Linked DNA regions of Homo sapiens. The protein of the gene in region 1 purifies or fractionates together with the protein of each later gene. This does not show direct contact. Each region holds a gene or a part of one and is shown on either strand. Other genes may lie near its edges.

What was found.
Region 2: the proteins of IL9R (region 1) and LSR purify together in Homo sapiens (affinity purification with mass spectrometry; 3 studies listed by BioGRID and IntAct, with this or other methods). This does not show direct contact.
Region 3: the proteins of IL9R (region 1) and UBE4A purify together in Homo sapiens (affinity purification with mass spectrometry, with the first as the bait; one large-scale study listed by BioGRID). This does not show direct contact.
Region 4: the proteins of IL9R (region 1) and TMX4 purify together in Homo sapiens (affinity purification with mass spectrometry; one large-scale study listed by BioGRID and IntAct). This does not show direct contact.
Region 5: the proteins of IL9R (region 1) and POMT1 purify together in Homo sapiens (affinity purification with mass spectrometry, with the first as the bait; one large-scale study listed by BioGRID). This does not show direct contact.
Region 6: the proteins of IL9R (region 1) and TTC17 purify together in Homo sapiens (affinity purification with mass spectrometry, with the first as the bait; one large-scale study listed by BioGRID). This does not show direct contact.

The regions. Positions count from the first base shown.
Region 1 is NC_000023.11:155,994,823-156,000,845, reverse strand, and holds the start of IL9R (interleukin-9 receptor isoform 1 precursor), read right to left. Parts: upstream 3,151-6,023; 5' UTR 3,103-3,150; coding exon of another isoform or gene 3,087-3,102; coding exon 3,059-3,086; intron 1-3,058.
Region 2 is NC_000019.10:35,261,433-35,266,667, reverse strand, and holds part of LSR (lipolysis-stimulated lipoprotein receptor isoform 2 precursor), read right to left. Parts: intron 4,744-5,235; coding exon 4,687-4,743; intron 4,123-4,686; coding exon 3,976-4,122; intron 310-3,975; coding exon 136-309; intron 1-135. UniProt on the Homo sapiens protein: Probable role in the clearance of triglyceride-rich lipoprotein from blood. Binds chylomicrons, LDL and VLDL in presence of free fatty acids and allows their subsequent uptake in the cells.
Region 3 is NC_000011.10:118,369,105-118,374,339, reverse strand, and holds part of UBE4A (ubiquitin conjugation factor E4 A), read right to left. Parts: intron 4,918-5,235; coding exon 4,805-4,917; intron 2,827-4,804; coding exon 2,674-2,826; intron 1,834-2,673; coding exon 1,674-1,833; coding exon of another isoform or gene 1,653-1,673; intron 1,255-1,652; coding exon 1,052-1,254; intron 847-1,051; coding exon 655-846; intron 1-654.
Region 4 is NC_000020.11:7,975,938-7,980,130, forward strand, and holds the end of TMX4 (thioredoxin-related transmembrane protein 4 precursor), read right to left. Parts: 3' UTR 1,409-4,193; downstream 1-1,408.
Region 5 is NC_000009.12:131,514,689-131,519,923, forward strand, and holds part of POMT1 (protein O-mannosyl-transferase 1), read left to right. Parts: intron 1-737; coding exon 738-834; intron 835-1,869; exon of another isoform or gene 1,870-2,335; intron 2,336-2,838; exon of another isoform or gene 2,839-3,215; intron 3,216-3,356; exon of another isoform or gene 3,357-3,455; coding exon of another isoform or gene 3,456-3,665; intron 3,666-3,756; coding exon 3,757-3,849; intron 3,850-4,009; coding exon of another isoform or gene 4,010-4,027; exon of another isoform or gene 4,028-4,148; coding exon 4,149-4,269; intron 4,270-4,700; coding exon 4,701-4,798; intron 4,799-5,235. UniProt on the Homo sapiens protein: Transfers mannosyl residues to the hydroxyl group of serine or threonine residues. Coexpression of both POMT1 and POMT2 is necessary for enzyme activity, expression of either POMT1 or POMT2 alone is insufficient.
Region 6 is NC_000011.10:43,361,290-43,366,524, reverse strand, and holds part of TTC17 (tetratricopeptide repeat protein 17 isoform 1 precursor), read right to left. Parts: intron 1-5,235. UniProt on the Homo sapiens protein: Plays a role in primary ciliogenesis by modulating actin polymerization.

The DNA.
Region 1 (6,023 bases):
AACTTCCCGAGGGCAGTGCCTGCGAGGCACCACTCAGCACATGCCCCAGCAGAAGGCACCACAGTGCTTTATAAATGGGGTGGAGCTGCAGGCAGAGCTGCCTTCCCCCATCCTTGACCACAGGGCCAGGCAGTCAGGGCAGATGCATACACCCTTACTCACAGGCTCCCTGCTCCTGAATGTCACCAGGGAAGCCTCACCACAGCTCAGACAACACCTGGTAACAGGCCGGTTGTGAGAGCAGGAGGGGAAACCAGTGTCTGCCACCTGGGACAGAGCTGCCCCTGACACCCCCAGTCCCGCTGGGGAGCCTGGCTGACATCACTGCCCAGCACAGCCTATCCCGCCTTGGATCTGTGGACATAGCCTTCAGCCCATGATCACTTTGGTCTGTTCTCAGAGCCCCACCCATTCCATGGCCTCAGTGTCAAAGTCTGGCCCAGATGCCTACTAGGCCTCATAGCCTGCCTGCCCTGCTTCCCTGGGCCACTGTGAAGCTGTGGGCTGCCCTGCCCTCACCTTTCCTGAACACTCACCTAATACAGAGCAGGCCACCATCATGGAGGCAGTCCAGGCAGCCCTGAGCATCTCTGTGCCTCCAAGCACACTCTCCAAGTTGCCCTCACACCAGTTACTGCATCCACTTACTGTTACACAGAGACTATTATGCATATATATATGTGTGTATATATATATATATTTTTTTTTTTTAGACGGAGTCTCGCTCTGTCGCTCAGGCTGGAACACAGTGGCGTGATCTCGGCTCACTGCAACCTCTGCCTCCCGAGTTCAAGTGATCCTCCTGCTTCAGCCTCCCAAGTAGCTGGGATTACAAGCATTTACAAGCATGAGTCACCACGCCTGGCTAATTTTTGTATTTTTAGTAGACACAGGGTTTCACCATGTTTGTCAGGCTGGTCTCGTACTCCTGGCCTCAAGTGATTCACCTGCTTTGGCCTCCCAAAGTGCTGGGATGTCAGGCATGAGCCAACATGCCTGGCCATATTTTGTCTTTTTTAATGGGGGCGGGGAAGGGTCTGGTTCTTCTGGACCATTCAGGAGGCTGGCAGCCTCAGAAGTTACTATTGAAGTGGACACCTGTCCAGCAAGGTCTTCTGTCTGCTGGGGGAAGAGGAAGAAATGCAGACCTTGGTACCCCAGAAGCAGCTGGAGCCTGGGGACATGGAGCCTGTGCCAGAAAATGGTGCTGGAAATGGGAGCAGGGGCCAGCTCCCTCTCTGGACCACATGAGGACTTCCTTCAGCACAGTGGGAATCCCCAATGCTGTTGGGCACAGAGTATGTAAGGTGCTGACAGGGGTAGGGATGGGCAGGAGGCAGGAGGGATGGGGTCTGAAAGGCCAGCTGGAGGCAAGTACAGAGACAACAGACACCTCATAGAGAAGGTGCAGGGAAGGCAGGGTGGGAGAGAGATGGCACCAAGAAGCATTTCCCACACACTTTCAGAGAAGAGGATGAGGGGCAGTGCTGCATCCGTGAGGTAAATGCCTGTGGGAACGCTGGGCCACAGCTCAGGAAGAAGTCAGGGCTGGACTTGGCACTGCAGAGGTGTTGGGTGGACAAGGGCACATACCCAGGGCAGAGGGGAGTAGGCAAGGGTGGGTGGGAGAAGTACAGAGAGGCGTGGAGGAGACCCCTGCTGCTCTGCTTCCCACTGTCCCCTCTGCCATCTTCCCTCCCCATCACAGGCCTGGTCCTTCATGAGGCCTTTCCCCAGTCCCCTAGTAGGCCTCCTTAGCTGGACGGAACCCCTGAGCCTGAGCACAGGCAACTCTCCTTCTGCACAGCCCTGAACTGACAGGGCCCAAGGGTTGAGCAGTGGCCATGGGCCAGGGCTGGAGTGAGGATATTGGCACAGTCCCCTGGGAGTCTGGAGGTGAGACGGGAAAATGATGTCCGTGCTCTTCCTGCTGTCTTGGTGAAGAGGTACCCACGTCGCCTGCTCTGCCCAAAACACCCCTCCCACAGCCTTGCTGCCCCACTGCAGTTGAAGGTCATCACTGTGCGTTGTCCCTACATGAGGCTCCTGGAGGCAAGACCCTGTTTGATCATGTTGCATCCCCTGCACCCAACTCAACCGTTTGATAAATGTTTTCCAACCCCCGCCCCACCTGCAGAGGCTGCCCTTGCTTCTGGACGGTGTTCATGTTGTGGGTACCCAGGAGCGGGGCTCTGGGATGCTACTTGAAGACACGCTGAGAGGATACCCACTCTTGATACTGTCTCAAACTCTGTCTCAAAAAAAAATTAATAATAATTAAAACGCCTGCCCTGCCTGTCAGCTGTAGCGTGACAGCTCTGGGAAGAGGGTGAGCCCAGAACAGCATAAATCACAGGAAGAGAAAATGGGGGCAGGGAGGGGAGAGGAGGATCCAAGCAGGGCCCACATCCTCCAGCTCATCACAAGAACAGGCTATCCAGACCCCAGGAAACTGAGAGGGTGATGTTCTTTCCAAAACAAACCCTCTCCTCCCCTTCCTCTGCTTGGCTGGGTTGACCCTCCCTCTGGAATCCCACCCTCACCTGCTGCCCCACACACAGCTCCAGTGGGGCATACCCATCCTCCTGGCTCCTCTTCTGCCCTAAAACACCCAAATGCCTCGGGGTTGGTAGAAGCTTTCCCAGCCCTGGGCCTAGACCTCAGCTCCACCCCATGGCCATCACAACTGAGGCCCAAGTATGCCCATTCTCACCCCACAAAGGCACCCCCACAAAGGTCAGTTCAATCACTGAGGAAGCAGAGTTCCTTCCATAATTAGAAATTCTGCCTGACAAACTCAGTGCCACACTGGCCACAGCAGAACCCATGACCCCTACAGGACTGGAAATTAGTTTGTAATCCTTGAGGTCAGGGCTGCAAATTTTGCCATCTCTAAGAGATACACAAGGCCAGGACACCAGAGGAGGTAAAGCTAGGGTGGCGCTCTCAAATGCCACAGTGGCTCCCTGGGCCCCGAGTTGGAGGGCCACATGTCCCTCTCTGCCTTCTGAATTTCATGCTGACTTGAGAGGTTGGGAAGCCCAAAGCACAGACTCACCTTCCCAGATGCATCTGCCCAGTCCCATCACAAGTCTGAGGCATCCCCAACCTGGAGGTGATTTGTCACCCAACTATCTCTGGGTGCACAGCAAAGACCCTCAGCCTGATTCAGGAGATAACTGCAGCAGTTGGTGACGTGAGCTTTGCACGACAGGTTCACACAGGCCGCCCACATCTGAAACCACAAGCGCATTACAGAGCTGCTCTCCCGAGCAGAGCTGAGAAGTGTCTGTCACCACTAATCTTCTAAGTCAGGGAACTGTGAGACATGACAACCTTACAGTCCCCATGACATTGAGAACTGCCAGACATGGACTTCAGTGATTTGTCTACTGACTGGCAAGTGAGTGTCCACTGTGTTCTTCCCAAGAAACACCACTGAGATTCATTAAACTGACCCCAGGAGGCAAGAACCTGTGCAGGTGCAGAGCAGTGCCCTTGTCCCCTTCTACACTTTGCCAAAACCAGAGGTGCAGGTTCTCCTTCCACCAGCTAAAGCAACCTGTGAGCATCAGGGGTGGGGAGAGTATTAAATATAAAATTAATGCAGACTCAGTTGAAGAAAAACAATACAGAAGAAAAATTCTTTAACAGGGTCCCCTTTCACCTCCCCCAAGAAGTAGCCACTGTGAGTAGTTAGGCACAAGTCCATGCAGACACTTTTGCTTTTTGGGGATTTTGTTTGTTTGTTTGTTTTCTTTTCTTTTTTGAGATGGAGTCTTGCTCTGTCGCCAGGCTGGAGTGCAGTGGCGTGATCTCGGCTCACTGCAGCCTCCACCTCCTGGTTTCAAGCGATTCCCCTGCCTCAGCCTCCTGAGTAGCTGGGACTACAGGCGTGTGCCATCACACCCGGCTAATTTTTGTATTTTAGTAGAGATGGGGTTTCACCATGTTGGCCAGGATGGTCTCGATCTCCTGACCTTGTGATCCTCCTGCCTAGGCCTCCCAAAGTGCTGGGATTACAGGCGAGAGCCACCTCGCACCCGGTCTTTTTTTTTTTTTTTTTTGACCGAGTCTTACTCTGTCACCCAGGCTGGAGTGCAGTGGTGCGATCTAGGCTCACTGCAACCTCGGCCTCCCGGGTTCAGATGATTCTCCTGCCTCAGCTCCTGAGTAGCTGGGATTACAGCCACCTGCCACCAAGCCCAGCTAATTTCTTTGTATTTTTAGTAGAGATGGGGTTTCACCGTGTTGACTGGGCTGGTCTTGAACTCCTAACCTCAAGTGATCCGCCCACCTAAGCCTCCCTAAGTGCTGGGATTACAGGTGTGAGCCACCACGCCCAGCCAGACACTTCTTAAGCTGAAACAAATACCTATTTCTTAAAGACTCCTGCTGTGCTGCCACTTTGCAGCCTTCTTGTTCCCCTATGGTGTTGCACCATCTTTCTAGGTCAGCATATAAAACCTACCTCATACCTTTAATGGTAGTATGCACCATGGTTTAATAATCCCTGCAATGTCTAGGCCCAGTGCCTCACACCTGTAATCCAAGAACTTTGGGAAGCAGAGACCGGAGGATCTCTTGAGGATCACAGGAGGTCAAGATTAGTCTGGGCAACAGAGTGACACCCTGCCTCTAAAAGAAAAACAATAATAATCATAATTTCTGCAATGAACATTTGGATTGTTGCCTGTATATGCTATTTTATTTATTTTTATTTTCATTTCTTTAGACACAGAGTCTTGCTCTGTCGCCCAGGCTGGGCTGGAGTGCAGTGACATGATCATAGCTCGCTGCAGCCTCAGACTCCTGGGTTCAAGCATATATGCTATTTTAAGTGAATTTCGTGAATAATTCTGGGCATGGATCTTCAAACAACAGAGTGAGTCCTACTGTAGGATAAATTGCTAGGGGTAGAATTGTGGGGTCTTAGGGTTAGCATTTTAAAATATTGATAGATGCTGAGATATGGCCCTACATAAAAAGTGTTGCACAGACTTTTGCTCTCACCAACAATGTAAGAATGCCTGTAACCTTCACCAACAGTAAACATTATCAGTCTTTTTCATCTTTGCCAATCTGATAGGCTAAGATATTTCAATGTGGTTCTAATTTGTACTTCCTTGAGTATTAGTCAAGATAAGCATCTTTTCATGTATTTATTACTTGTGTGTTCTTTGGGGTTGAATTTTAATCAGCTTGGCTCCAGTCTTACCTGCTACAAGCATATACTGTTCTACTCACTGGAGCCATCCCTGCACTAGTGTCCTTACCAAGACAGCTTCTTTCTGTCAGTGTGCCTTCTATCTTGCTGAAGCCAGAATTTACTAACTCAAGACCAGCAGACCACACTACCCATATCATAACCTCAGAAGCAGAGACCACAAGGGCTGGATAGGGAGAAAGGAAATTCTCAAAAGAAAAACCAGAGAAGAGAGCCCCAAATTCTACATCTAAATTCTACCCAAATCTCTGGATGACCCTTGAACTATACATCTGCCAGCTAACTCCAAGGAGCCCAGCTAAGGTTAAATAACCTGAACAGAAGTTTCAGCTGTTCACCTCAGGACACAGAGTTTTCTGCCTGCTAAAATAACAAACAAACAAAAACAAAATTAAAAAAAATTTTTAAACACCCTCCAGAGAAATATAACAGAACACACAGTCTCAACAATGTATACCATTCACAATTTCTAAGATAAAAACAAATTTATCAAACACATGAAGAAAGAGTACTATGTCACCCATGCTTAAGAGAAAAGATAATCAATGAAGATTGACTTCCAGGAATAAGTTGTTGGAAATAGCAAAGGTTTTAAAGCAGATACTCTTACTATGCTCAAATATATAAAGGAAAATATGCTCCCAATGAATACATAGGAAATCTCAGAGGAGAAATAGAAACTATACAAAAGAACCAAGGCCAGGTGTGGTTCTATACAAAAGAATCAAGGCCGAGGCAGATGGATCCCTTGAGGTCAGGAGTTTGAGACCAGCCTGACCAACATGGTGAAACCCTG
Region 2 (5,235 bases), on another chromosome or scaffold:
TGGCTGTCAGTGGCCGCGCACCAGGAGCAGAGCCCCTCCTCGGCTCCCAAGACACTCTTCCTTCCAGCCCCTGCCCCTCAGTGTCCAGATGCCCAGCACACTCCCACCAGCTGTTCCTGCTTCCCCCGGCCTCACCTGAGCTACTCCTGTCAACGTCTCCAGGGTATCCTCCAGGGTACCCGTTGTAGGCAGGGCCCATGGGAATCATAGCTGGTGGGGGTGGGGTCTTGGCGGGAGACAGGTGGGCATAGGTGCTGGGGGCATAAATGCTGGGAACACCTGAGGTGGCTGCTTTGCCGGCGGCATACACTGTGAGGACACAATCAACAGGAGAAGGGGGATGAGGCAGGAGCCAGGCTGCCCCATACCCATTGGGTTCCGGAGGGACCTGGGCCTGGACCTCCTTCCCAAGCCGTCCTCTCCGCTGTAGAGCTTCCTTGGACATCTGAGTCCCTGTTGGTCCTCATTCCATTTCTGCAGCATCCCTGAGGCTGGGGGACACCAGCTTCACAGAGACCCCACCCCACTTCCTGTGTGATTTTTCAGAGGGTGCACGCAGGCACCCACAGCCCCAGGGTGGCAGAACAATGTTTCATTTAACAGCATGGTAATTCGCCAACATTTGTCAATCAAAAGGTTTTACCTAAACTTCCAACTCCCCAGCTAACTTACTGGAAGAAGTGGCCACCCATGGTCTGTGTGTTTACAGGGCAACAAAGCTGCCCTTTATATAAAGCCCAGATGCTGGGTCCACCACTGTCCCCACAAGCCGAAATCAAGTATCCTCTTTGGCAGCCAAGCCCCTGTTCTAGAAAAAATGAGTCATCTGGGAGACGTGGGTCCTGCCCACCTGGTCACCTTCCAGATTGAGATGCAGTGGCAGGAGCCTCGGGAATTAACTTGCCTGCCCCGGCCAAGCAGCAAAGTGTCTCCTCTAGTGTTTCTAACTCATGGACTGCACCCATTTCTGCCTGCCCCACCAGGCTCTAGGCTTGACAGTTCAAGGTAAGATCCTCCTCCCTTCCTTCCTCCCTAGGGCAAGAGGCTTGCAAAATTCCTGGGCCCTAGGCAAGTGGCTTCCTCCCTGGGACCCCAACAGGAAAATGGAGGAGAGAGATGGGCCCAGAGAGGGTGCCTCACCTCTGATTTGGTTTGGAAGCAGAAGACTAAGTGCACAGCCTAGAGGAAGCCCCTTCATTAGCTCAGGCAGCCTGCAACTTTATCATCAGCAGTGGGACCTGCTGCCTCCTGAAGGGTGGGCGGAGGCTGTGGCAGCAGCAGATGTAACAGGGCCTCTGCCAGGGAGTTAATGGGGCCCTGGGTTGGGGTAACAGGGTCTCCGGATGGAGGAAATGTGGTGTGGGGACAGGGGAATGTGGCATTGGGACCAGCATTTAGTCCTGGCCCTAGCTCTGGTCTTAGTGGGTTCACTGCAAACTTGGTTGCAGCCCATCTGTGAAATGGACCTAACACTTACTCACTGAGCAAAAAGCTGTCAGCTGAACACAACAAGAGGGAGGGGATGGGATGGCCTGCATAAGCCTCCAGGGAGCAGTGGAATTTTTTCAGGGAAGTGATCCTTTGAGGAACCAGGTTGCACACCACTGACTTCAATGACTATAAAATTAGCCAGCGACTTCCTTAATGCTAACAACAACCCATGAAGTCAGGACCTAACAGAAGGAAACAGGACTCAGAGAGGGAAGGCTGCTTCTCTGGGGTCACTCTGTGTGCACCAGGGCTCTGACTGGTGCCCTGTCCCTCAGTCACTACTGAGGCTGATAGTGGCAGTGCCCAGCAGCTGACAGACGTAGAATATTTTATATAGGTTGGGCCCCATGCTCAATGGTGTGCACATGAGCTCGCCAAATCCCCAGATGCACCCAGTGTGGTGAGCTCTGCCATAAGCCCCATTTTATAGGGGATGACACTGAGCCCTAGGGAGGGAAACTGCTCACTGGGCTTCTGAGCAGGAAGGTGTCAAGCAGGCCTCAGCTCTCCACCTGCCCATGCTTGCAAGGATTGCCTGGCACTTCACTGTTCATGTATCTTGGACTGTGTGCACACAGGCTGGTCTACCCAGACACCCTCCTGAAGGAAACCAAGGACTGGCAACAGCTGTGGTCCCCGAGGAGGGGAAACGGGACAGCAGCTAGAGGGATGCTGAAGTGTCCATCAGTGCCACTTAGTGTACACACTGTGGTCTGGTGTCCCAAGGCTGATGGCTGTGACCACGTCAATCAGCTCCTCTGTGAAAGTGTCCCGTTGGGATATTCACAAACATTCACAGAAGAGAGACAGGAGCAAGTCTTTTTCAATTGCACATGTCTGACTCCTCTCATAGAGTTAGGTCCCTCTCTCTCTGTCTTCTGTCTTCTCTTACCTTCCCCTGCTTGGTTTGCTTACTTCCCCTTTAGCTCTCATCTCACATCCAGTCCCAGCTCTCCACAGTAGCCATGCTGGTGTGCTAGATACGACCCTAGACATAGTAGCTGGGTAAAATGTGCAGCATTCCTGTGGGTATGTGTTTTCAAACATTTGCTTAAATTTGGCCAGGCATGGTGGCTCACACCTGTAGTCCTAACACTTTGGGAGGCCAAGGTAGGGGTGCGGGGGAGCGGACTGCCTGAGGTCAGGAGTTCGAGACCAGCCTGGCCAACATGGCAAAACCCCGTCTCTACTAAAAATACAAAAATTAGTCAGGCGTGGTGGCAGGCGCCTATATCCCAGCTACTCGGGAGGCTGAGGCAGGAGAATAGCTTAAACCCGGGGGGCGGAGGTTGCAGTGAGCAGAGATCACGCCACTTTACTCCAGCCTGGGCGACAGAGTGAAACTGTCTCCAAAAAAAAAAAAAAATTTGCTTAAGTTTAAGGCCAGGTGTGGTAGTTCATGCCTGTAATCCCATCACTTTGGGAGCCTGAGGCAGGATCACTTGAGGTCAAGAGTTCAAGACCAGCCTGGGCAACATAGCAAGACCCTGTCTCTACAGAAAATTTTTAAAAATTGGCCAGCATGGTGGCACATGCCTGTAATCCCAGCACTTTGGGGAGGCTGACTTGGGAGGATCACCTGAGGCCAGGAGTTTGAGATCAGGCTGGGCAACATACTGAGACCCCGTCTCTACAAAAAACAAAAATCAAAAAATTAGCTGGGCATGGTGGTGTGTGCCTACAGTCCCAGCTGCTCCAGAGGCTGAGGCGGGAGGACTGCTTGAACCCGGGAGTTTGAGGCTGCAGAGAGCTATGATCGCACTGCACTGCCTGGATGACAGAATGAGACCCTTTCTCTAAAACAAAAAAAATTTTTTTTGCTTAAATCATGTAGTGTTGTAAACCTTGTTTGGTTTCTTAACTTTTTCACTTAACATTTTTTTTTCTTTTTTTTTTGAGACAGAGTCTCACTCTGTCGCCCAGGCTGGAGTGCAGTGGCGTGATCTCAGCTCACTGCAACCTCCACTTCTTGGGTTTAAGCGATTCTCATGCCTCAGTCTCCTGAGTAGCTGGGATTACAGGCGATCACCACCATGCCCAGCTAATTTTTGTATTTTTAGTAGAGAACTGGGTTTTACCATGTTGGCCAGGCTGATCTGGAACTCCTGACCTCAAGTGATCCACTCGTCTTGGCCTCCCAAAGTGCTGGGATTACAGGCGTAATCACTGCGCCTAGCCAAGATTTGGTTTTTTTAGAGGGCTTTACTTCCATGTGACTAGTATCTTGTACTGTTGGACATTTTTACCATGTGTATGGATTATACTTACAAAAGAAAAGAACAACATAAATAAAAATAAACTAAAAGTTGGAGGAAGTAAACGACAATCTAAACAGCAGACCCTCCTCAGCCTACTTTCTCCCCACTGGCTAAATTCACACCCTCCAGACCAACGCCACTGTCCTGGGGGCAGGTGGATGGCCACCTCCTTCCCTTGGATGCAGGATGTTGCCCAAACCAGGGTGGCCATGAGCGGGACACTTACGGGCCTCGGGGCAGCAGCACTTGTCTGGGCAGCAGGGGCACCTGACGTAGCAGCAGCAAGTGTGCGGGCAGCACTGGCACCAGCAGATGCCCAGGAGGAGGAAGATGAGGAAGGCAGCCAGGCATACCACAACCACGAAGAGCCAGTCTGCAGAAAGACAACAGGCCCTGAGCCCGGAGGCCTGGGAGGGAACAGGGCTAACGGCACAGCAGGGGTACATGGTGCGGAGCCAGCACTGAGGTCGGGGACGATTTGCAAAGCTCACCAAGGAACCTGCAGCCCTGGCTGGATTTTTTGTGCCAGAGGCTGGGCACAGCACACTCCCCATTCTACCATCCCGGCCATTCCCCAGTTACGGCCCTCCCCCAGGTGCAAAAAACACAAGGCAGAAAACGAGGCAGCCTGCACAGAGGGAGACAGACTGCAGCCCCCAGACCAAAGAGAGAGCCAGCTGCCCAGACGCCACACCCTCAAGAGCACCGCAGGTGCCAGTCACAGAGCCCTGGCCTGCACCCCAGGCTCTCCTCAGCCCAGCCTAGCCTAGGCCCAGCGCCAGACCACTAGATGCCTCAGAGCCACAGTCAGGCCAGGTTAGTGAGGGGTCCACAGTGAGCAGGGTTTAGTGGGGAAGGGGATACTAACTAGAGTCAGAAGCAGTAGGTGATGTATGGGAGCTCCCGAGAAGCCCAACTCAGGATCCACCCCCCGTACCTTCTATGGGCCCCGCCTGAAAACCAGGTAAGAGCTCAGCCACCCCTGAGGTCCTCCCTGGAGGGACAAAAGAGAAACAGATTATGCTGGCCAGAGCCAGCCCAGGCTGTGCCACCCCCGAAAGCCCAGCTCCAGGCTGGCCAAGTGCAAGGTGTGCCCTGAAGCGGGAAGGGGCTGGGGGCTGAAGCCCTAGTGCATGGCTCCTACCCTCCACCCGCCCACATGTGGGTGCTTATAGGTAAGAAACTCCCATTGCATAATCCACCTGTGTTATGCCACGAGGGCTCCAATACAAATCCCAGGGGGTTCTGAGGGCTCTACCTCAGCTTGGGCACCCTAAGTTTCCCTCATTCATAGGTCTTAGCACCCCAAAGGGCTCCAACCACGGTGATAGGGATGTCCTGTTCCAGCAGGCACAGGGACCTAGGGCCCACGAAATAGGATCTCAGCTCTGTCGCCCAGTCTGGAGTGCAGGGGTGTGATCATGGCTCACTGCAGCTTCAACCTCGTGGGCTCAGGCGATCCTCCCACCTCAGCCTCTGGGGTAAG
Region 3 (5,235 bases), on another chromosome or scaffold:
AGAGGGCATAGGTGGAGACACGAAAAGGAAGAAAAACTGGGTTTATAAGCTAGAGTTCAGTCAAAAGATTTTCAGAGCTAAAGTTATAGCTCAGTGAGAAAAATGAGGGTTGGGGAGAAGTAGCTGTAGCAGTGCTACAGCAAAGGGTAATGAGTAGCAGCAGCTCATTCTTACCCCACACGTGCTGTTCTTAGCATATGCTACAAAGAGGGGATTTTTTTTTTTTGAGACAGAGTCTTCTTCTGTCATCCAGGCCGGAGCGTGATGATGCAATCATGGCTTACTGAAGTCTTGACCTCCCAGGCTCAAGTGATCCTCCCACCTCAGCCTCCCGAGTAGGTGGGACTACAGATGCTTGCCACCATGCCCACCTAAGTTTTGTATTTTTTTGTAGACATGGGGGTCTCACTGTGTTGCCTAGGCTGGTTTCAAATTGAACTCCTGGGCTCAAGCGATCCTCCCACCTTGGCCTCCCAAAGTGCCGGGATTACAGGCTTGAGCTACCATGCCCAGTTTTAATTTATTTATGTGATGTAAAAGCCAACTAGATCAATTTGCTTTCCCAGAGAGGCTTGAGCAGCCTTATCTGTATCTGCTTTCTGAGAAAACTCTTTTAAGATCAGGGGGCTGGGATACCCTGGTAAACAGTTCCACCTGATGGATGTTGGCCTCCTGTACTTTGATCTCCTGGGGGCTGGAACGAGATGGATTCAAAAAGTAGCCATGATTTTCTACAACACCCGGAGTCTTTAATAAGCAGGAGATACTCAGAATTACTCCCAGCAAGGTCTTCTGGTACATTTGCCCATTGGTAGGGTCCTTGGGCTGAATGTATTCTACAAAAACCTGTAAGAGAAGACAAGTTCTGCTTATTCATCTTCATGGTGAGATAAGGTGATGGGGTGGGAGGGCCTCAAAACAGTTAAGTTGATACAACAACCAAGCTATCTTTTTCTTATTTTATAGGTAGTATTATAGTGTCTTCAGGATAGGGAAGCATCATGTATTACACATCTAGCTCAACTGAATACATATCATCTTTCAGACCTACCTTTGCCATATCTTTTTGCCTAGTGAAATAGAGAAGAATATCCAGATATGCATACAAAAGGATCTGACAGAGCTCTAGATCTTTTATTCGGCCCAATAAAATATCAAACACTGGAATCATGACTTCTGGAAATGTTCTAACTTCCTCATCCAATATCAAGGCTTCAATGACCTCTTCCAGAAACTCAGTTACATCTTCAAAATCTAACAGAAGACAAATGAGAGAGAAAGGAGGGCACAAGAATTTTTATATGCCTTTACACACTAGCTCTTTACTTTCAATAATTCTTTTTTTTTTTTTTTTAGAGCTGGGGGTCTTGTTTTTTTGCTCAGCCTGGAGTGTAGTGGCTATTCACAGGTGTGATTATAGCACACTACAGCCTCAAACTCCTGGGCTCAAGGGATCCTTCTGCCTCAGCCTCCAGAGTAGATGGGACTACAGGGGTGTGCTACCATGCCCAGCTTTATTCTATTGGTACTCAACCTCAAAGATCAAGATGTGAGCCCTCCTCCTTAATTTATACCAGAACCATAATGGCTCTGAGACTTTCTAATGCAATTAGTGAAATTTTAAATCTGAAAATCAAAATGTAGAAGCTTACAGATCTTGTTCATGTACTCACGGGCTCCCTGGATGGCTTCTAACATCAAATCTACCAGTTGCTCATGGATGTTTTGGTCAACATAGATCTCTGGGGTGAGAAGAACTGTTCGGGTATTGGACACAGTGAGGTTTCTGCACTGCACTGCAAAGGGTAGCAGGTTCTCTGGAACTTTGGTAATCTGCAAACAGCATGAAGAAAAGAGGGAATAGTCTAACTCTGTAATCTGGAACGAAAGTAGACATAGTGAATACAATAGAAGAGACATACTGGTCTCCTGTGGATGCTTGAAAATTAATTAGAGATTCCTTCCTTGGCTTAAGGAATCATCTATCTGCCTATTTAAAATTCCAAACCTGGAAATATCCGGCTTAGCCTACTCTAATATTTACATCTCAGTGGAAATGAATTCATGAGCCCTTTTCTGATTTTTGAGACAGAGTCTCGCTCTGTCACCCAGGCTGGAGTGCAGTGGTGTGATCTCAGCTCACTGCAACCTCCACCTCCCAGGTTCAAGTGATTCTCCTGCCTCAGCCTCCTGAGTAGCTGGGATTATAAATGTGTGCCACCATGCCCGGCTAATTTTTGTATTTTCAGTAAAGGTTTTGCCATGTTGGCCAGGCTGGTCTCGAACTCCTGGCCTCATGTGATCCGCCTGCATCGGCCTCCCAAAGTGCTGGGATTACAGGAGTGAGCCACTGTGCCCAGCCTCATGAGATTTTTTTAAGGATGTGATTTCTAAAGAGGTTTTAGAGAGAATAGGAGGCATTGGTTAACTGGGGAGAAGGGTGGACCCCAAGATACGGAAAGGAGACTAAAGCTTTAGTGCATCTGATATCCAGTGTTCTAAACATACTATGACATATATAAATTGATATAAAAGCTTTAGTGTCCCTGATATTCACTTCTAGACATACTATGACATATATAAATTGAAATAAAGACTGATCCAACTCTGGCCCACATGCTGAAGTCATACCCAAGAGGACAATACAGTATTCAATGGGGATTATTCCTTTACCTCTTCCTTGGCTCTCTGGAAGCAGGAGTAAAGGTAACAAAAAATGTGCCTCTCTCCTGCATCTCGATCAGCAGAGAGATTTAGCGTTGTAGAAGAAGTCATGTTAATTAAGTGGTTGCCTGGATCTTGAAGTAATAAGCGAGCGAAGAGGGCCTATAAAGAAAACCAAACAAAAATACTAAACTATTGCAAAATTAATCTGAGAACATTAAGATGTAAAAGGTAATTCTGACACAGGTTATTAGCAAGAATCACAGATTTGAATGTAGAGTGAAGGAGAAAAAAAGGGCCCTGTATATTTTTACTTTAGAAAATTTTAGAAAATTATGGCATATATAAAGTTATCCTAAATCAAGCCTCAAGTGTCTAGTATAGCCCCAGCATAGAGTAGGCATTAAAAGACTATTTGTTGAATGGTGCTGAGATCAGTGATTAAACTTAGATGTGAAATCTACTATTCTGTGTGATTGCTGATCTCATTCAGACTTATATAAAGATACTCCAAATGTGAAGTTAAACTGCAAGCTGTCAACTGTCTTTCCTACCAAACTTTTATTCTTTTAATGTTACTCAGGCACCTGCAAGGTACAACGCACTGTTTTGATTTTTAAAGTGCTGTGGTTTATATGTTTGTCTCCAACAAAATTCATGTTGAAATTTGATCTCCATGTGGCACTGTTGGAGGTGGGGCTAGTGGGAGGTGTCTGGGTATGGAGGCGGATCCCTCCTGAATTGCTTGGTGCTTTTCTCAAGGTGCTGAATGAGTTCTTGCTCTCACAAGACTGGATTAATTCTCATAGGAATGGACAAATTCCCTCCAGAGCGGGTTCTTATTAAGCCAGGACACCTCTCAGGTTTTCTCCTCCTTGCATGCGTCCTCATGGTATGTGTCCTTTGGTGACTTCCTCCACCACATTGTGAGGCAGCACAAAAGCCCTCACCAGAGGCCAAGGACATACCCTGAATCTTCTCAGCCTGCAGAACTGTGAGCTAAATAAACTTTTCTTTATAAATTACTGCTTGGGTGTTCTTTTTTTTTTTTTTAGATGGGTCTTTCTTGCTCTGTCGCCCAGGCTGGAGTGCAGTCGTGTGACTATGGCTCACTGCAGCCTCTGCCTCCCAGGCTCAAGCAATCCTCCCACCTCAGCCTCCTGAGTAGCTAGGACTTCAGGTACATGCCATCACACCCAGTTAATTCTTTGTATTTTTTGTAGAAACATGGTCTTGTTATGTTGCCAGGGCTGGTAACTCCTGGCCTGGAGATCCTCCCAACTTGGCCTCCCAAAGTGCTGGGATTACAGATGTGAGCCACTGTGCCTAGTCACAGGTATTCTTTTATAGCAACACAAAACAGACTAAGATAGAAAGGATATAAAGAAGAAAAAGCGATGGGCCTTGCCCTTAAGAACTTAAGTCTAATAGGGGAGATAAGACAGGTACATAAGAAAGCCGCAACATGAGACAGAAAGTGACAATTCCCACAAGAGATTCAGAGGCTGATTATTCTAGGTACCCAGAGGAGGGAGTAACAACTTTTATTTGGCAAGGCTTTGTAATTTTTTCTTTTTTTTTTTTGAGACGGAGTCTTGCTCTGTTGTCCAGGCTGGAGTGCAGTGGTATGATCTCGGCTCATTGCAACCTCCGCCTCCTGGGTTTAAACCATTCTCCTGCCTCAGCCTCCCAAGTAGTTGGGACTACAGGCGCCCACCACCATGCCCAGCTAATTTTTTGTATTTTTAGTAGAGACGGCGTTTCACCATGTTAGCCAGATGGTCTTGATCTCCTGACCTCGTGATCCACCTGCCTCAGCCTCCCAAAGTGCTGGGATTACAGGCGTGAGTCAATGTGCCTGGCCAAGGCTTTGTAATTAAGAAGGCATTTTAACTGGTTCTTAGAGGATGGGTAGATTTGGGCATGTGGCCATGGTAGATGAAAAGATTCCAAAAGAGGAACACCACAATGTTAGAGATGCACATCCAGGTTACTTGGCCTTCTACTGGTAAAAAAAAAAAAAAAAAAAGAGAGAGGGATGGACATATGGACACAAGCATAAGTTGGAGAACAGTGAGCAGAATTCAGCCGCATAGCTAATTTTTGCTAAGGGCACACATTAGGAACGTAAGAATATTACCTGCTCAACATTGCTCATATCAAGCCAGTCTTGATCTTCTAGCTCTACTGCCATTTCTTCCAAATACACACAACGGCTAGGGATGCCATTCCCGCTTTTCAAGCTGGGATCACCTGGGAAATGGTTTTAATATGATAGGTTAAGGATAATGCTTCTGTTTTATACAGACAACTGATCTTGACAGCATCACTCTTGAACTGCAAATCTGACTCAAGTAATACCAGAATGATCCTGATACACAAAGCAACATCTAAAGATTCAAATCTTTTTTTTTCCCCCTCTAGTCACAGAGAATGGGATTTGTTATAAACCTAGCATCATGACATTTAAAGAGTAAATCCCAGACATTAGTACCAACCTTGGGGTTTAAACACAGACAGGGCACAGAGGGCAAACACTCTCTGATGCCTCTGAAGGCTTCCATCTGAATA
Region 4 (4,193 bases), on another chromosome or scaffold:
CACTGTGGCAAGAGATTGCTAGCTCTCAAGTTCCCTTTGTTCTTAAGCACACAGCAAGATTACACATCCTAGTCTTCCTTTAAGTTAGGTATGACCCTGTGACTAAGTCCTCTCACAGGAAATGTGAACATAAATGATGCACGTGTGGCAGCCTCGCTTTAAAATCTCTCAGCAATGTTCCTCCATCTCTTACTCCTCTGACTGACTGGGATGGAAATGATCACAGCCACCTTAGCAGCCACGTTTTTTTGGTTGTTTGTTTTGAGATGGAGTCTCGCACTGTTGCCAAGGCTGGAGTGCAAAGGCATGATCTCGGCTCACTGTAATCTCTGCCTCCCGAGTTCAATTAATTCTCCTGCCTCAGCCTCCTGAGTAGCTGGGATTATACGCACCTGCCATTACGCCTGGCTTATTTTTGTATTTTTAGTAGAGACAGGGTTTCGCCATGTTACTAAGGCTGGTCTCAAACTCTTGATCTCAGGTGATCCACCTCCCTCGGCCTCCCAAAGTGCTGGGATTACAGGCGTGAGCCACCATGCCCGGCCCAGCAGCCACATGTTAAACAGCAAAGCCTCCCTTGACCTTGAGGCCCAGAAAAACCTGCATGGGACAGAGCCTGCCTGGGATGCCTGGCCTGGGCTATGTGAATCAGTAATACAATTCTTGTTCTTAAAGCCCCCGAGATTTGCGGGTCTGTTAGCACAGGCTGGACTGTCGTAATACAGTTATCAATCTCAAGAAGCTCACATGTTCCAAGAAAGAATTTCTATTACTGTGAAATATGTTCCAAAGAGCATTCAAGACTAGAGCAAAGCAGGGGGTTAAATTTGTAATTCAGTGTTGTTGGCTTGAAAGCTGCATTTTGCTATAGGCAAGGATGAATAACCAAAGTCATCTAGGCAGACAGCACGACAGACATTTTTCTCTGTATAGGCAAATAAGCATTCTGAGCCAGTATCTCTGAGGGAGGGCCTTGGTGGTATGCAGGTTTAGTAACTGTCTTCTCACTACACACATCCCCCACCATCTTCCAAAAGACAAAAATCCAATCTCCATTGTTTCAGTCTCTGAGGGTGTTTCAAGGACCCACCTTACCACCTTGATGCTTTTCCACTATAGTGGTGGGGAGAGTTAGGTGTAGAAGGGAGTTTTCTGAAAGCCCCAAAGACAAGACCAATCCACAGTGTCTTGGGGGATTAGTAGCATCCCTTGCCATCTGGCTACCCCAAGACCTCAGGACAGAGGGAGACCCCAGAGGTTTCTGATGGCAACACACTGGCTGGAAGAGCCTTGGATCTTTGGACCCTGCCTTGGTTTTGTGCACTTTCCAGAGCAACTAAAGGGCACATGGTCTGAGTTTCACCGAGTCAGGAAGGGAGAAAGAGAGAGAATGAATGAACAGACTAGATGGAGGATGGACACGAAGGAAAATTTTTTTTAACAAATTAATATTTTTTGCTGCCTAGGCAAATGGCTTTTGTGAAAACACTTGTATGAAAAGCAATACACCATTTGTTTTTACTTACCAATCACTATCATTAGGTTTTGATGCAAATGGGAATTTACAATAAAATGAAACAAATAGGATCAGGGATTATATACAATACTGTGATCAAGTGATTTGTGATTCAGGCAATGTACTACTTGAAACACATATCTGGATTTCTCATTCCAATTGCTGCAGATGCTATTTGAGGAAGCAAAGAATACAGAAAGAAAAATAATTAGGTTCATTAGGCTAAGACTAATACCAGTAATATAAACAACAAATTTATAACATATTGCATTGCAAATAAGCAATGTTTTTAGTATAAAAATTGCATTTCCACAAAGAAGCTAATAACAAATACGATTAAACCACTTCAGAAACACGTCAAAGTTGTACGAGTCACACATATACAGTGTCACAGTCTACATAAAGCTTTACTGAGAATAAGCCATCTGAAGGGCATGTCCCGGGCTGAAGCGATCAAAGGGCTTTTCAACTGAAGTTCTTACTTCCAGAAAGCTGTTCAAAAAGCTGCCCCATCAGGTTCAGCAGGCTTGATGACTCCAAATTTGGCTTTTTAAGACAAGCTAAAATCTCCTCCAGAGAATCAAAATGTAGGACTGAGGTAAAGAGATATTAAACAAGAAGGAACTTTTCTGTTGGCATAAGAGATTTGAATGAATTCTTTCGAAAATGTTGGTACATTTGACAGGATGGGTCAACCACATATTCATAATACTGACAGAAATAACACTGTAACACCAAGATGAGGGACACAGATAACCTATTGATACGAGCAACAGAACCAGCCTCCCTCTTCTTTCTCTCACTTCATACTAAAGATTTTATGCTGAAATCTCAGGTTTGCCGTAACTTTTCCACCTTTTTTTAAAATTTATTTTTCTCTGGACTTCTAATGTTTCCATCCTATGAAACAACATACCAGCTCCACTACTGATGCATTTGGTAATAAAAAGTCACATGGTAAGTATTTGCCTTAAAAATGACTTTTATCGTCTACCCCAAAGGTGTTTTTACAGGATGCAGGTTCTGTAGACTGACATATTCCCAAATCATATTAGAACATCACAGCTGTCAACAAGGAATTTTGGCCATAAAAAGTCAAATTTTGTTTTTTTTCCACTATCAAAAGCCAACTCAGCTGAAGCTTATCTATTTTCTACTACAGTAGTTATTTTGAATGTATAGAGCTAAAGAGGCCTGTGGCTAACAGACAGGGATTCCATGCACAAGAGCTTTTAAGTATGTGCCCATGCAGTGCAAGGCCCTGTGAACCCAACAGGCCCTGTCCCTCATCCCATCCAATGACTATACTTCAAAGGGAAAGAAAGATGTGGATTGCCTGTATGTTGCTTCAATATGAGATCTCTGAGCAAGCTGGGTTGGTTTAGCAGATCTAGCAAGAGACAAATAATAAGAGAAACCAACATAAAGGTAATCAGAAGTTTCAAACTTTCCTTCTAATTGATGAAAAGATACCCTGCTCCAACTCCCCAAACATAAAGCACTGCACATTCCCATTCCAAAACCAGTTACCTGCATTGCATTCACCTAATTTTAATTTACATAAAATACCATTCTGTGACTAAATAACTGATACTGCAATAGAGGGAAGCATGATTTTAATTTTTTTTTTTTTTAGATTTTAAAAATCAAAATCATGTTTCCATGCACTTGAGTTCCGGATCAAATATATTATCTACAGAAAAAATCCACAAACTCTTATCGAAATGTTCATATAAAGTTTAAATTATTTCAGGTTGGCTTTTCTCCTTTAGTTTTATATTCATTAAGTATTGAAAACAAACCTAAAATCTTCAAGTGGAAAGATATTAAATTAAATTTTGTTGGAAAAAAACCCATCTTTGCCATGATGTTAAAAAAGGGAAAATCAGGAAAAATGGTTCCCACAGATATTTAAAGTTTTAATGGGTCCTCTTCTCCAAGATGTTTTTCTCCTCACCCTTCAATTTTTTTTAAAAGTATTTCTGAGAAAGAAAGTACATTTTCTGCCAGGTACGGTGGCTCACACCTGTAATCCCAGCACGTTGGGAGGCTGAGGCGGGCGGATCACCTGAGGTCAGGAGTTCAAGACCAGTCTGACCAACATGGCGAAACCCCGTCTCTACTAAAAATACAAAATTAGCCAGGCATGGTGGCACATGCCTGTAATCCCAGCTACCTGGGAGGCTGAGGCAGGAGAATCCCTTGAACTAGGGAGGCGGAGGTTGTAGTAAGCCAAGATTGTGCCATTGCAGCCTGGGCGACAACAAGAGTGAAACTCCATCTCAAAAAAAAAAAAAAAAGAAAATACATTTTTCTTATTATATAATTAGATATAGGTCAAATATCCCTTATCCAAAATGTGTGGGACCAGAAGTGTTTCAAATGTTTTTGGATTTGGGGATTTTTGTATATATATAATGAGGTATCTTGGGAGTAGACCCAAGTCTAAACACAAAATTCATTTGTTTTATATACACCTTATACAACATAGCTTGAAGGTAATTTTATCCAATATTTTTAATAATCTTGGGCATGGAACAAAGTTTTGATTGCACTGTAACTGCCACCTGTCAAATGAGGTCAGGTGTAAAATTTTCCACTTCTGACGGAATGCTGGAACTCAAAGTTTAAGATTTTGGAGCATTTGGGGTTTTGGATTGTTGGAACGGAATGTTCA
Region 5 (5,235 bases), on another chromosome or scaffold:
CTCACACCTGTAATCCCAGCACTTTGGGAGGCCAAGGTGGGCAGATCATTTGAGGTCAGGAGTTGGAGACAAGCTGGGCCAACATGGTGAAACCCCGTCTCTACTAAAAATACAAAAATTAGCCAGGCATGGTGGCATGTGCCTGTAATCCCAGCTAGACAGGAGGCTGAGGCAGGAGAATCGCTTGAACCCAGGAGGCAGAGATTGCAGTGAGCTGAGATCGCGCCATTTGCACTCCAGCCTGGGTGACAGAGTGAGACTCCATCTCAAAACAAAAAAGAAGTGGGTGTTCGTTAACATTGAGGTTGATAGCCTTTTCTCCCAGCTTATCTGCTGCGTCCCCAGGCCAGCTGGGCGCAGGGGCGGGCAGCTCAGCCCTGCAAGTTGTAGCATTGGTACTGCCAGCTGGCATCGCAGCAGTACCGGATCGGGCCTGGGCGCACGGTTCCTTCCTCTGAAACTTGGTTCGCTCGTCTAACAGGTGGAAGGTTCCACAGCAGAGTGTCCTTTTCTTTTGGAGATGTTCCCACAGGGCCTCCTGCCTGTTTAGTGTCCACTCCCATCGCCGAGCCTCAAGACCTCCGTCCTCAGTAGCAGCAACTCATGGGACTGGGCCACCCCTTATGGCTGAGCCGGCTTTGTTTCTGAAAAGCAACCTTTTCCTGCCTGAAAGATTTAGTAATTGCCTTCCAGAGGAGTTCAAGGAATTTTCTGAAATCTCGGTCTTGGTTTTCCAGGCATGATGTTGCAGCCCCCCTGAGCCCCCATTCACAGGAGGTCTCCTGCTACATTGACTATAACATCTCCATGCCCGCCCAGAACCTCTGGAGACTGGTGAGTAAGGCTGCGGCTATAGCAGCCACAACCGTCAGTAATGAACACTCCCTCACACGGAGCACTTCCTCACCCGGAGCACTCCCTAACACAGAGCACTTCCTAACAGAACACTTCATCACACGGAGCACTTCCTCTAACACGGAGCACTTCCTCTAACACAGGACACTTCCTCACACGGAACACTTCCTCACACGGAGCACTTCCTGTAACAGGACACTTCCTCACACGGAGCACTTCCTCTAACATGGAGCACTTCCTGTAACACAGGACACTTCCTCACACGGAGCACTTCCTCTAACACAGGACACTTCCTCACACGGAGCACTTCCTCACAGGGAGCACTTTCTCTAACACAGGACACTTCCTCACATGGAGCACTTCCTCACATGGAGCACTTCCTCACAGGGAGCACTTCCTCACACGGAACACTTCCTCTAACACAGGACACTTCCTCTCACACTCACACGGAGCACTTCCTCTAACACAGGACACTTCCTCACACGGAGCACTTCCTCACACGGAGCACTTCCTCTAACACAGGACACTTCCTCACACGGAGCACTTCCTCACATGGAGCACTTCCTCACAGGGAGCACTTCCTCACACGGAACACTTCCTCTAACACAGGACACTCTCACACTCACACGGAGCACTTCCTCTAACACAGGACACTTCCTCACACAGAGCACTTCCTCACACGGAGCACTTCCTCACACGGAACACTTCCTCACACGGAACACTTCCTCACACGGAACACCTCCTCACACGGAACACTTCCTCACACGGAGCACTTCCTCACACGGAACACCTCCTCACACGGAGCACTTCCTCACACGGAGCACTTCCTCTAACAGAACACTTCCTCACACGGAGCACTTCCTCACAGGGAGCACTCCATCACACGGAGCACTTGCTCACACGGAGCACTTCCTGACATGGAATGTTTGAAACTGCCGTTGAGAATAATCATTTTTCCTTTTTTTCAGTTTACCCAGTTGAGGTTGGATATTTAGAATAATTCTGATTCAGATGTAAAGTTACATAAGTTTTATTCGTACATAAAGTCACAGATGTTTTCACAGGGAACCGATGCGTCTTCCTTGGTGGAACTGGGGAACCTGGTGGTTTCCTGCATCAGAGGCCTGTGTTCACTGAGATTCTAAATGCTTTGTGTTTGCTCCATGTTGGGTGCCAGGTGCGCTTGAGGCTCTGCCAGGTGAAAGTTCTCCCAACCTGTTTAGCCTCAGGAGCAGGTCCTGAACACAGGACACGAGCTCCAGCCACCCCTCTGCCACCATGATCCAGGAGAAATTCCATTTCTCAGGATTTCCCTGGGGACAGGCTTAGCCGTGAGTGCGGGGGATGTTCCTGAGGCGCTGGGTCTGTGGTCACCTTTCCTTCCAGCGACCAGGGCCACCTGCTCCCCTTACGGAATCGGGTCTCCTGGGAAAGGTTCCATAAAAAGTCTTCTGTTACTGGACCATGTTGCCATCTGAATCTAAGGACATGGACACTAAATGCAGCCCAGCCCCATGACCACAGTGAAGGCACTGGGCTTATTTCCATAGTGAGGTCACACCCCCCCTTCTAGCTTCCCACTGGCTTCAGCGCTTTCTGCCTACGCAGGCTCAGCCCTGTTTCGCTTGACAGAGTTAGCACCACGTCCTCATGGCCAGCCCTCACAGCAAAGCCAGGTATCTGCTGATGTTCTTTTTTTTTTTTTGCGACTGGGTCTCACTCTGTCACCCAGGCTGAAGTGCAGTGGCGTGATCTTGGCTTACTGCAGTGTTGGCCTCCCAAGCTTAGGTGATCCTCCCACCTCTGCCTCTTGGTATTACAGGTTAGCCACCATGCCTGGCCCCTGTTAATTTTGAATATTTAATTTTTAAAATATTTTTTCTATTCCAGGACAGTCTGATTTTTAAAATTTTTTGTGGAGATGGGGTCTTGCTATGTTGTCCAGGCTGGTCTTGAACTCCTGGACTCAAGCCGTCCTCTTACCTCAGCCTCCCAGAGTCGCTGGGATGACAAGTGTGAGCCACTGCTCCAGATTGGCTGTTCCATTTTTGTGCAGAGTGCGCCCCTCTGCCCCACTCGCCGTCTCTGTGCTCTGCATATCTGTGTGCGTTCTGCATTTCCATCCCCGCCCCCCCACAGTCCTTCCCTGACGTGAGTGCTGTGCCCCTTCTCACGGGCACCCTTCTCTGTCCTTTCTGATGGCCCCTTTGGCACCAGGAGCCCACATTTCAGGTGTCTGAAGTTCATAGAACAAGGAAGGAGGGAGCATGCGTGAGGTGTGCGCGCCCGGCCTGCGGCATGGACCGCGGCCAGGCCTCCTCATGCCTGCTCCTGCCTAGCTTCTTGGGTTCTCTGGTTGTGACAGTATGGGAAAATGACAGTCATGTGATGTCATGGGGTCATTGTGAGGCTCCAGTATGTCAGGCTGTGACAAGGCAAAGTGCCTTTCAGATGTTAGTTGTCTTTTTTATTACTCGATGCGAGGAAATCTCTAAGCTGTGTCTGGCAGGGACAGTGTCTGGCCTTCATCTGAGCTGTCTGCGAGTCCTGCCAGATAGGGACTGAGACTTGCTCACTTTTTGGCCAGGGCTCTGAGCCCTATGAATAGGCTTTGCAGAGAGGCACGAAGAACATCAGGCTTTGTATTTTCTGTGAGGAGGCCTCTTGTACGGCCTTGGCGAGGAGGAGGGTGCACTTCCCCAGCGACCCTCGGAGCAGCCCGGGGTGCTGTGGGCATTGGGAAGGAAGGCCAGTACCAGCCCCTTATAGCTTCCCTCACTTGGGGACTTGTCCCTTTGTCTCAGGCTCAAGTCAGTATCATTGTTTGGTGACAGGTCTTTATTTTTACATTGAAGGAAATTTGAAAAGGAATGAAATAATCCTTGAGATGTCTTTTTGCAGGAAATTGTGAACAGAGGATCTGACACAGACGTCTGGAAGACCATCCTCTCAGAGGTCCGCTTTGTGCACGTGAACACTTCCGCTGTCTTAAAGGTAAGGACACTGTCCGTGGCTTGGCCTGTCCTGAGCTGTGGGCTCCAGTCTGTTTCCCAAGCCCCTCAGGCTTCACCGCCTCTCTGCAGGCGGAACGCTTCATTTGAGTCATCATGGCTTCCTCTTACACTGAGGGAGGGCGGCTTTTGTAACTTCTCAGGATGGAATCCCAATGTGAATCTCCCACAAGGGGCACCTGCTGACAGCGTGACCCGGGCAGGGGTTCCCCTTCCAACCCAAGTGGACACGGGAGCCACGGCCTTCCCATCACGCCCTTTACTCTCCTGCGGTGTCACCAGCTGAGCGGGGCTCACCTCCCTGACTGGGGGTATCGGCAACTGGAGATCGTCGGGGAGAAGCTGTCCCGGGGCTACCACGGGAGCACGGTGTGGAACGTGGAGGAGCACCGATACGGCGCGAGTGAGTCCGCGGCGTGGCTTCCGCCGCTCCTGGAATGTACTTTCAGCTGCTCAATATTTGATAACACCCCAGAGTTCTCATTTTGGTGGGAAGGGAACTGAGCACATTCTCCATGCTCGGTGGCAGGTCATCTCCCTCCCTGCACCCTGCACTCAGCTGCTGCAGTAATAACTCAAGACGCTTCTTCCGAGGTGTCGCTGGAAGGCAACCAGTTTATCCCCGTGCAAGTGGAGCTTTCTCAGGGTCGAAATCACCTCATTTGACCGGGCAGTCTTGGGTGTGGTGGGGAAAGCTAAGTGGAATGATGCGGTTCGATAAGGGGTCTTTGTTAGAAAGGCAGGAAGCCAGCTTTTTGCTGCACTGACAGCTTCTGCTCTGAGCTCTTGACCTTGTGCTACTTCTATCTGTTATGCCCTTGTCTGTTCTGCCAGGCCAGGAGCAGAGGGAGCGGGAACGGGAGCTGCACTCACCTGCGCAGGTGGACGTCAGCAGGAACCTCAGCTTCATGGCGAGATTCTCGGAGCTGCAGGTGAGGAGCGGCCAGGGGAAGCTGGCCTAGCTCGCTGAGCATTGACTCCTCAGCAGGGAGGCCTGGGGGCTGCACAGGACTCAAACCAGAGTCAGGCTTTGACGCTGGAGCTACAGGCTCACAACAGAATGAGTGTCTCCTCTCTCCAGTGTAAGGGACTGTGTGTGACACCCCTGGCCCACACCTTGTGGCCCTGTGGTCAGGAATAATAGGGACCCAGGAGGTTCTGCAACATCGCCAGGGTGTCTTAAGGCCCCCAGGCAGCGAAATGGGCCACACTCAACAGAGCCCAAGAGAAGTCACAATCAGAAACTCACGGTCACAAATCTGAACGTGACCTTAGAGAGCATTCAGCCCAATCACTTCGTCTACAGAGGAGGTAACTGGAGCACATAGGGTGGGGCGACCCTCCCAAGGCCACATTCAGGGCTGGAATC
Region 6 (5,235 bases), on another chromosome or scaffold:
CAATTTTTTTTTTTTTTTTGAGGCAGAGTCTCACTCTGTCACGCAAGCTGGAGTACAGTGGCACTATCTTGGGTCACTACAACCTCCACCTCCCGGGCTCAAGCGATTCTCCCACCTCAGCCTCCCGAGTAGCTTTGATTACAGGTGCGCACCACCATGCCCGGCTAATTTTTTGGTATTTTAGTAGAGATGGGGTTTTACCATGTTGCCCAGGATGGTTTCAAAATTTTTAATTAAATAAAACAAAGGAGAAGAACAGGAAGCTGCGGCAATAATAAGGTGGCCTGAATTAGAGTAATGATAGTAGCTATGGGAAGAAGTAAAATATAATTAGTAAAACAAAGATCTTGGTGATGGCTAAGGGAGACTAAGGAATTAAAGACAACTAGATTTCTGACGTGAACTAGTCCCAGCTACTCGGGAGGCTGAGGCAGAAAAATTGCTTGAACCTGGGAGGCGGAGGTTGTAGTGAGCCGAGATTGCGCCACTGCACTACAGCCTGGCGACAGAGCAAGACTCCATCTCAAAAAAAAAAAAAGGTCTTAAATCTACAACTCTGGAGAAAAAAACTAAGTTACAAAAGGAATGCAGATACTCTCAGCATACATATGGTAACTGATGCTCAGGTGTATGTACAGAGTTTAAAAAAACTGGAACAGAAGCTGGAAGGATGGCAATATCTAAAACTGAATTTCTTAGACTATGTGTGGTCTACCTGCATTATACTCTCCCAAGGAGTTTGATAAAAATGTAGAATCCTTCGCTTTACCACCAACCTACTGAATCAGATACTCTGGGTGTCTTGGAAATCTGCATTTTAAGCAAGCAACTCCCAATTCCCCAATTATTTTTGTACAAGGTAAAGTTTGAGAACTACTTATCTAAAGGGTGAGTATGAAAAAGAGCAAGGGCAAAGAAACAAAAACAAAAACAACAAAGTTAAGAAGGAGATGAGCTGGCCAGGCATGGCGGCTCATGCCTGTAATCCCAGCACTTTGGGAGGCCAAGGCAGGTGATTGCTTCAGCTCAGGAGATCAAGATCAGCCTGGGTGACATGGCAAAACCCCGTCTCTACAAAAAATACAAAAATTAGCTGGGTGTGGTGGCACTTGCCTGTAGTCCCAGCTACATGGGAGGCTGAGGCGGGAGGATCACTTGAGCCCAAGAGTTCAAGTTTACAATGAGCCATAATCATGCCACTGAATTCCAGCCTGAGCAACATGGTACAACCCTATCTCTACAAAAAATAAAAAAAAACTAACCAGGTGTGGTGGTATGCACTTGTAGTTCCAGGTACTAGGGAGGTTGTGGTGGGAAGATCACTTGAGCCTAGGAGTTCAAGGTCACGGTGAGCTATGACGGTGCCACTGCACTCTAGCCTGGGTGACAGAGTGACCTGTCTTTAAAAAATAAAAAACATTATGGCCGGGCGTGGTGGGTTCACGCCTGTAATCCCAGCACTTTGGGAGGCCGAGGCAGGCAGATCACCTGAGGTCAGGAGTTTGAGACCAGCCTGACCAGGAGAAACCCTGTCTCTACTAAAAATACAAAATTAGCCGGGCGTGGTGGTACATGCCTATAATCCCAGCTACTCAGGAGGCTGAGGCAGGAAAACCGCTTGAATCCAGGAGGTGGAGGTTGAGGTGAGCCGAGATCACGCCACTGTACTCCAGCCTGGGCAACAAGAGCGAAACTCTGTCTCAAAATAAATAAATAAATAAAAATTTAAAAAATTGAAAAAGTGGGAAAATTATTTAAAGTTCTAATTTATTTCTGTACATTTCCAAGCTCCTCTCACTGCCCTACAGCATAAACAAAGTCAGAATCTCAGTAATTTATAAGAAGAAAAATAATAGTGGACAATATCTGAAAAAATGGACTGAATGAGAATCATTTTGAAGCAAAGGTCTTGGACAAACTGCAAAGGTTTGGCAGATGCCTAGCAAATTAGTGAATAACCACCATGACCTCTCCAGGTGTAACTAAATCCTGGAAGTGTATAAACATAGAAACAGTCCTTTATGACAAAAAAAGATGAGTTACTTTTGAAAAGTACAGAAATAAAGCTGTCAGCTTCACAGTGCCATATGGATGCTCTCTCCCAGATTAACCAAATTACTTAACATCAGACCAAAATTAAACCAGGCCTTCACTTACAAGCTATTAATGGCTGGGCACAATGGCTCACACCTGTAATCCCAGCACTTTGGGAGGCCAAGGCAGGAGGATCGCTTGAGGCCTGGAGTTTAAGACCAGCCTGGCCGACATGAAGAAACCCTGTCTCTACTAAAAATTCAAAAATTAGCCAGGTGTGGTGGTGCACACCTGTAGTCCCAGCTATTTGGGAGGCTAAGACAGGAGAATCACTTAAACCCAGGAGACAGAGGTTGCAGTGAGCCAGAATCACACCACTGCACTCCAGCCTGGGTGATAAGAGTGAGACTCCGTCTCAAAAAAAAAAAAAAAAAAAAAAAAAAGAGGATCTGTACTCCGAAGATACCGGCCTGACCGGGGGACAAAACGATTAAGTAAATGCCGAATGAACTCACACTTATTTAGGACCCTTCCACACCCACTTACCCTGAATCTTAAGTTACCACAAAACATTCTATGGAGATAAAGCAAACTGGAAAAGAAGATACCTTTACTTCATTATTTTCATTTTTGCTTTTATGTTTCTTTGTAGTCCTTCATTTGTAAGTGTTATGAGAGGAAAAAAAATCTACTGAGTACAAGGTGCTCACTTGCATGCTACTGCAGACTAATCCATTTTTACTTACTATTGCCACGAAATGCCACACATTAGTTACACGACTTTGAGTGACTTTCTCTCTTAGGAGTTGTACTACATAATCTTTAAGAATGTTTTCCAAATCTGAAAGTCCACAGTTCTAAGTAAGATTGGAGAAGAGGGAAATAGTGACAAAGAATACGAATATTAAAATGTATAAGACAGCTGATACAGATGATACTCTTAATTTACTTAAATTTTTAGCCCTCCAATTATGAAGAAAAAGAATATCCAGAGGCAGAGAACTCAGTACTAGCAATACAACTTCTTGATTCAGTAAGGCTACAACTAACAAACTGGTAACATTTCAAGAGTTTCTCTGTTAGCTGCTACCTAGAGCATGGAACATATATTTTTTTCAACAAAATGAAGTGCCATAGAGTGGTTAGGCTCTTAGGCAAATTCACAAGTTTAACCTTTGATGCAAGTAAATTACCAGACACTGATTAAAAAATAGAAAATAGAATACAGAAAGTAGATATTGCCAAACTAGGGATTAAGCAAAAACAACATCAAAATGAAACAACACAAAATTTATCTTGAAACCTATTTTTCAAAAAGTCAACCAAAAGAGCCACAGGCCTGATTACGCTAGTGCTCCTTTTAGTAACTAGATTATAATAGCTCACTTCTTAAGTCCATGGGGTCGAAGTTAAGGACCCCTGCTTAAATAAAGTGAGATGGGCTTACTAGGTTTCAGGTACCAGCGACAGACACTAGGGCATCAGAGGTATGTCAAAGCCCAAAGCTAGGAAAACAGCACAGAGCGGAGAGGAGAAGAAGACGGGGTTTCTCTTAGCCTTCCCCTGACACCAGTGGAAAAGGAACTTAGTGATTGGAATGTTCTCTCCACATCCCAGCTCCAGGATTCCCTGGACCATATTTGGGAATTCAGTGGCAGCTCAGTAAACATAACCTAAAAATTGGGGAAGGTATGCTTCCTAGCTGAGGCAGGGATTGTGAAATGCAACAACTTGCTGGGCATGGTGGCACAAGCCTGTAGTCCCACCTACTCAGGAGGCTGAGGTAGGAAGATCAATTAAGGCTGCAATGCATGGGAGTAACCATGCACTTCAGCCTGGGCAATAAAGAAAGACCCCCATCTCTAAAAGAAAAAGAAATAATTCCTTTAACCATCATGCCAAGTAATGGACACCAGCTGCTGCCTGCAGCAGCCCCAGCTCTGACTGTGAAGAGGTTGCCTGCAGGAATGTATGCTCCTTGCTCTTACTTAACCCCCTTTTCAACCCACCAAAGGATGTACCATTTCCAATACATACGCATGTTGACAAGTCTGCGGTATGTAACTGGTGGGTGCCTATCTTTATTGTCTGCTAAACCTTGAAATATAAAAAATCAAATGAATTTTCATCTCTCCTGGGAAAGACTCCTTGATGTACTTAAAAAGTTATAATGGCCGGGCACAGCGGCTCACGCCTGTAATCCCAGCACTTTGAGAGGCCAAGGTGGGCGGATCACAAGGTTTGGAGTTTGAGACCAGCCTGTCCAGTATGGTAAAACCCTGTCTCTACTAAAAATACACACACACACACACACACACACACACACACACACACACACACAAATTAGCCGGGTGTGGTAGTGCATGCCTGTAATCCCAGCTACTCGGGATGCTGAGGCAGGAGAATCACTTGAACCCGGGAGGCGGAGGTTGTGGTGAGCCAAGATAGCGCCATTGCACTCCAGCCTGGGCAACAAGAGCAAAACTCCATCTCAAAAAAAAAAAAAAAAAAAGTTATAATGATGGTTGGACAATTCAGATTTTTAAGTCATAAGTACTTCTTTATGATCACTGTGGAAAACAATGACCCATATATCTAATCTGGGTGTGTTTAATATTAAAGGTTCTCAAAAGGTATGTACCACTCTAATTTTCTAAAAGCTGTTAATCCAGTTAGCCCTTAGCCCTTTGCCTGGTAGTAGGTCACTTTAAAACTGAAATCACACTTATGCTCTCATTCAAATATTGTAACCAAGAATAAGCAGCAAGAATTTGGTATGTCAGGACAAAGTATACAGATGGTCCCCACCTTTCGATGGTTCAACTTATAATTTCTTGACTTTACAATGCTGCAAAAGTGACATGCATTTGGTAGCAACTGTACTGAGTGCCCATATAACCATTCTGTTTTTCACTTTCAGTGAAGTATTCATGAATTACATGAGGTATTTTGATACTTTATTGTAAAAGATGCTGTTAGATGATTTTGCCCAAATTTGGCTAATGTAAGTATTGTGAGCACGTTTAAGGTAGGTTAGGCTAAGCTACAATGTTTGGTAGGTACATTAAATGCATTTTTGACTTACAGTATTTTCGACTTACAATGAGTTTATCAGCACATAACCCCTTCATAAGCTGAGGAGCATCTGTATATACTAAGCTTTTAATTATGTTTCTGAATGTACAAATCTGCAATATATAT